2 separate regions of the Homo sapiens genome follow, and region 2 is linked to region 1. The links come from fine-mapping of genetic effects on gene expression. A gene starts in region 1. The other region holds a variant in brackets. All regions are shown on one strand. Distances are between the middles of the regions.

Region 1 (2,907 bases):
AACTTTCCTTCAGGACTAATATATTAAATAGGCCAAAACACTGACTTGTCATTTAAAAATTTTTTAAGGTCACTTCATAAGTATAAAAAACTCATGCATGGTCGGGCGCGGTGGCTCACGGCTGTAACCCCAGCACTTTGGGAGACCCAGGAGGGCGGATCACCTGAAGTCAGGAGTTCGAGACCAGCCTGGCCAAAATGGGGAAACCCCATCTCTACTAAAAATACAAAAATTAGCCAGGCGTGGTGGCGCGTGCCTGCAGTCCCAGCTACTCGGGAGGCTGAGGCAGGAAAATTGCTTGAACCCAGGAGGCAGAGGTTGCAGTGAGCCGAGAGCGCGACACTGCACTCCAGCCTGGGCGACAGAGGAGACTCCATCTCAGAAAAAAAAAAAAAAAAAAAAAAAAAAAAAAAAAAAAAAGGCATGCCTAATAGTATTTATAAAATACTCGCATACATTTTACATGTTAATATTATTACGAAATAAAGTAACGTTTATATAATTATTTCAATAGCTATTCCTATTTAAGTAATAATTGGGTAAATTTAACAGCAAATACAAGAAAAAACTGCATGGCAAGCTATTTTCCTTAAAACATGATTCTGAACACTAAACGTTACAAAAACAGATACTTGCTACAACTGTGAAGGAGAAACTGCATTTCCCTATTATTACAAGAACAAAGGTTTTCACAAAAAAATTTAAGGACTCTACAGCCGCCTTGTTCTTTGTTATCCCACCCCTGCCCGCCTCGGCTAACGGTTTTGGGGCCCGTTTGCTTGGTGCGTCTGGAACTCCTCGGGCGGCGGGCGTCTCGCAGGAAAAACCGCGGCCCGTACTGCGCCGGGAGCAGAAGCGCTGGTGGCCCTCGTAGGTCCCGTGGGCTGCCTCCCCCTCCTGCAGACACTCGAGGAGCCATCCGGCCGCGTCTCTCGCCGCCCGGCCCCGCCACTAGGCTGCCGCCTCCGCCGCTGCACAGAGAAGGGCGAAGACCCGCCCCTGCAGGTGATTGACGGGCACTCTCCTCCAATGGTCAACGCGCTCGGCCCCGGCGGGCTGGGCAAGGGCCGCGGCTCGCGGAGGAATCTCTCTTGCCCTTTAGTCCCGGGCAAGGTGTTGCGGCCGGCGCCATTTTCTCGAGCCGCCTGTTTCGGGTGCCGCCATGTTGGTGAGGAGAAATCACCGTTACGGCCACTGTCCAAATCCCCGCGTCGCTGCACGCCGCCCGCCCGCTCCCACGCCACAGCCACCGGCGGCGAATAGAGACTAGAGCGGCAGCGCCGGCAGCGCGGGGCCGTTGCCCAGTGTTTGCAGTTAGAGCCCCATCTCTCTGGCGTGGTTGTTAATAGACTGGAAAGTCTGTGTCTGTGTCGCTCACTAGTAACCGTGAGTTTTTACCACTTCGTCACCTGTCGGCGGCGGCCGGGAGCAGGTTCCCGCAGGCGGCGCGGGGGGTCTTCCCCGCGCCCCGCCGCCGCCGGCCTCGCAGACCTGCCCTCCAGCCCCGCCCCGTTCTTGACCAAACATGACAGACTCTGAACATGCAGGGCACGACAGGTCGGGAACCCTTCTTGTCTGTCTTTCTGTCGGATGAGAGGAGGGGTCTGGGGCGGCGGGAGCGGGCCGGGGCCGGGCGCCTCCTGCATGACCTAGACGTCTCTGTGTGGCTCCGTCAGTTCCATGACGCGCACTCTTATGTAAACTGCTGGATCGCGGCCGCGGGGGAGGTCGGCCCGGCCGCGCCCGCCTCCCCGAGCCGGGGTCGCTGCTCGCCAGCGCCGGCCCCGCCCCCGGCCGGGCACGTGCGAGCCCCCCGCCCCCCGGGCGGGCTCCGTGTGCGCCGGGCGGCTCTCAGCGTCCCGGCTCGGTGCTGAGGTCCTGCTTCTGCCCGTCCAGGTGTCGGTGCTCCCGGCCAGATAGGACCAGCCAGGAATTTTCAGGAATGGGTGTTTTGATATTTGACTGCTTCCCGAGAACCGAGAACACCTCTAAAAAAATAAACATTTGGTTTTCAGGGAAGTTTTAAGCAGCACCAAAAGGCCATCTGTTGTATACAGTCTTATCCCTTGGAATTTGAGATGGCAAGTTTCAAGTTTAATATGTTAACACAAAATACTTAGGCTTTGCAGAAACTTAGTTTAGCACAGTTTTACCCTAACGTAAAAACTCCATGGATTATTCCGGCTAGCCCAATTTTCTAGATGGTGTGTATCACTTGAATATTGAGATTCTGATTTTTTATTTTTTGCTCTGTGCCTTAAGAGGCACATTCTTGTTTCCATTCGAGTTTGGGGACATTTACAAAGTATACTGTAGCATACTTAAATTTTGGTTATAATTCAAATTTTCATTCGTATATATCTTTAATAATGCGAAAGGGGGGCTTTCATTCATTAAACTTACTGAAACAAAATCCATTGCATCTGATTCTTACTTAGAATATTAATTTGAAAATCTAGAACCTCACAATTACTCCTTTGTGAATAGAAGTAAGAAAAAATATACGTTTTACTATAGACTATATACATTGCTGAAGTTTTATCTGTAGTAATGTGATCGGCTTGGTAAAGCATCCTAAACACGTTTTTTAAAACCCAGAAGCAAAAATCACAAACACTGCTGAAATTTGAAATATCTAAATACCTAGCAATCTTGAGAGGGATAAAAATGGTATTTCAACAACTTCAGTATTGTAATAATAAAAGTAGATTCCCAGAGGGCACGTCAATCAAAGTGTAAAAATTTTTGGAAAGTAAAATGCACTTTTAAAAATGATAAGCTTGCACTTGGCACATTTTTAATGATTTTTTTAACGTTATCTTTTGTATTAAAAAGGAAATTCTTAGAATGGGTTGACTAATACCTTGCTCTTGAGGTATGGACAAACCAATGATGGGGTTTTGCTAA
Region 2 (2,923 bases), 86 kb after region 1:
GGATCATGGATTGAATCCTGAAACAGAGGAAGGACACTGAAGGAAAGACTGGGAAAACCTGACTGAGGTCTGGAGTGTAGTTAGTGATACTATACCAAGACTAATTTCTTAGTTTTGATAATTTATTAACAGTTATGTTAACATTGGGGGTAGCTGTGCAAGGGGTGTGAGAAAGCTGTTATATCTTTAACCTTGGCCCATGGTTAAGGTGTTTCCAGTGTAAGGTCACTGTTATTCCTTGTAGTTAACATATATTTGGCACCACAGGATTCATTCTGGAATTCTTGGCTTATTTATAACTTTTTTTCTTTTTCTAGTAGTGAGAAACCTGGCTTTCGTGCAGAGTTTACAAACGCCAATTTAAACTTTTGTTTTGTCATAGGCAATAATTTTATTACCTTTATTACCTGTATTTATTTCAGAGCTTATGAATTTTTAATTATTCTAAGGGCTAACACAGAACTTTTTCATGTTTTCTACTCTTCAAGAGCAGGTAAGACTTTAGTTTGTAATACATTACAAGAGGAATCCTGTGGTTCTCTAAGAGCTAATTTGTCTTGGCAAAAGGCCTTAGCGAGCTGTGAGTGGTGGCTCATGCCTGGAATCCCAGCACTTTGATCTGAGACGGCTGGATCACCTGAGGCCAGAAGTTTGAGGCCAGTTTGGCCAACATGGCGAAACCCCATCTCTGCTAAAAATACAAAAAATTAGCCAGGCATAATGGCATGCACCTGTAGTCCCAGCCACTTGGGAGGCTGAGGCAGGAGAATTGCTTGAACCTCGGAAGTGGAGGTTGCAGTGAGCCGAGATCGTGCCACTGCACTCCAGCCTGGGAAACAGCGAGACTGTCTCAAAACAAACAAAAAAAAACAACAAAAAAAAAACAAAACAACAAAAAAATTAGACGGGCGTGGTGGCATGCACCTATAGTCCCAGCTACTCAGGAGGCTGAGGCAGGAGAATCACTTGAACCCAGGAGTTGGAGGTTGCAGTGAGCAGAGATCATGCCGCTGCACTCTAGCCTGGGTGACACAGTGAGTATCCATCTCAAAACAACAACAACAACAACAAAAACAAATTAAAAAACCCAACAACAACAAAACCAGCAAACAAGAAAACTAAACAGGCTTTAGGGAAAGAGCAATCTAATTATCTGATTATATGATTGGCACTAAGATGGGAATGACTCTGGCCTAATTTCTTCAATTTACATTTTAAAACAGGAGCTTAGTTAGCCCCCAAATAATATGTAATTGATGTATTAGGGTTGGGGAGTGAATATTTTTCAAAGCAGAAGATATTTCTCAATTCTTGCTTACTTTTGGAGGTTGAAGTTCAAGGAAGCCCCTGCCTTGGCACTGTATTCCAGGGAGGTATTTGGAGTTAATTTCAGGGCTTAGCAGTGACTCTTTAGAAAAGCAGTATACGATTGAAATGTAATGTGGTACAAATGAGATCACTACAAGTAATTTAAAAATGTGCTAGTAGTGTTTCTTTTTCTGAGACGGAGTCTCGCTCTGAAGCCCAGGCTGGAGTGCAGTGGCACGATCTCGG[C/T]TCACTGCAAGCTCCGCCTCCCAGGTTCGCGCCATTCTCCTGCCTCAGCCTCCCTAGTAGCTGGGACTACAGGCGCCTGCCACCACTCCTGGCTAATTTTCTGTGTTTTTAGTAGAGACGGGGTTTCACCGTGTTAGCCAGGATGGTCTCGGTCTCCTGACCTCGTGATCCTCCCACCTCAGCCTCCCAAAGTGCTGGGATTACAGGAGTGAGCCACCACACCCAGCCTCTAGTAGTACTTTTATCAAAAGTAAATAGAAACATGGAATTAATTTTCACAATACATTTTATTTAAACTAATATGTTCACAATGTTAAAATTTCAACATGTAATCACTATAAAAACTACTAGTGAGATATTTCACATTACTTTTTTCATGTAAGCCTTTGAAATCTGGTGTGTATTTTATATTTACTGTACATCCTGATTTGGAATAACCACATTTCAATCTTTCAATAGCCACATGTGGCTAGTGGCTACTGTGTTAGAGCAGTTCTAGAACAAAGGAGTCCCTTTCAAACTATTTTGAAGTCATCGTCTATAAGGCAATATGAAAGCTGATCTGAATGATTTCTCCTTTTCCAGGAAAGGAAACAAAAATGAAATCATGTTAGGGCTGCATATTTTATGGGTCCCAGGACAAATAGACATAGTCTGAAAGAATGATCTCAGTCAGAAACTCAGAATGAATCATATGAATTAAACATTGGACAATGTCCAATGCTCAGCATGTGTTTTTGGTTTATACTAAGAACATATTATGCCACCAAATACAGATATTTACTATTATACTTAGTGTAGGAGGTATATTGAGACATTGTTCTACACTACCACAGTTCCATATTTTGTGAAAAGCTATGTTGCACTTTTTTTTTTTTTGAGAGTGTGCCCAGGCTGGAGTGCAATGGCATGATCTCAGCTCACTCCAGCCTCCGCCCCACCAGGTTCAAGTGATTCTCCTGCCTCAGCCTCCCTAGTAGTTGGGATTACAGGTGCGCACCACCACGTCTGGCTAATTGTTGTATTTTTAGTAGATACGGGGTTTTGTCATGTTGGCCAGGCTGGTCTCGAACTCCTGACCTCAGGTGATCCACCCGCCTCAGCCTCCCAAAGTGTTAGGATTACAGGCGTGATCCACCACGCCCAGCCTTATATTTCACTCTTTGGGAATTGTATCTTACTGTAATCTTAAACTACACTAAAATAAATAATGTAAACCTTTTGTCAAATTGCTCAGAGTAGGTTTCTACTTTGGTTATAAGGAATAAAATTCATGCTTTTGTATACACACTAGACATCTAAAGCAATCAACTATAGTTAACAAGCAGTGCTCTTACCAAAAGGTAACTCTTTCTAGAATCTGTCACAC

Which allele goes with the higher level. Alleles are on the strand shown, and positions count from the first base shown. SD is a standard deviation of normalised expression in the study named.
For the expression in lung of the gene that starts at base 1,128 in region 1, allele T in region 2 goes with a lower level than allele C (moderate effect, 0.59 SD a copy in GTEx).

The links. PIP is the estimated chance that this variant, and not a neighbour inherited with it, causes the effect. A credible set is the group of variants that fine-mapping cannot tell apart.
Region 2: its variant is the best candidate, but not a certain one, in a credible set for the expression of ZC3H6 in lung (GTEx, PIP 0.66).

What each region holds. Positions count from the first base shown.
Region 1 is chr2:112,274,470-112,277,376 of GRCh38, forward strand. ZC3H6 (zinc finger CCCH-type containing 6) reads left to right here and starts at 1,128. Exons shown (of 12, transcript NM_198581.3): 1 at 1,128-1,557. The coding sequence starts at 1,526. RefSeq lists enhancers at 830-1,402, 1,018-1,227 and a silencer at 1,418-1,897.
Region 2 is chr2:112,360,871-112,363,793 of GRCh38, forward strand. All of the region lies in intron 1 of LOC124906067 (a long non-coding RNA gene), which reads left to right. Among named protein-coding and RNA genes, the nearest start is that of RGPD8, 71 kb to the right of the region's middle. The variant C/T (reference allele first, on the strand shown) is at 1,555.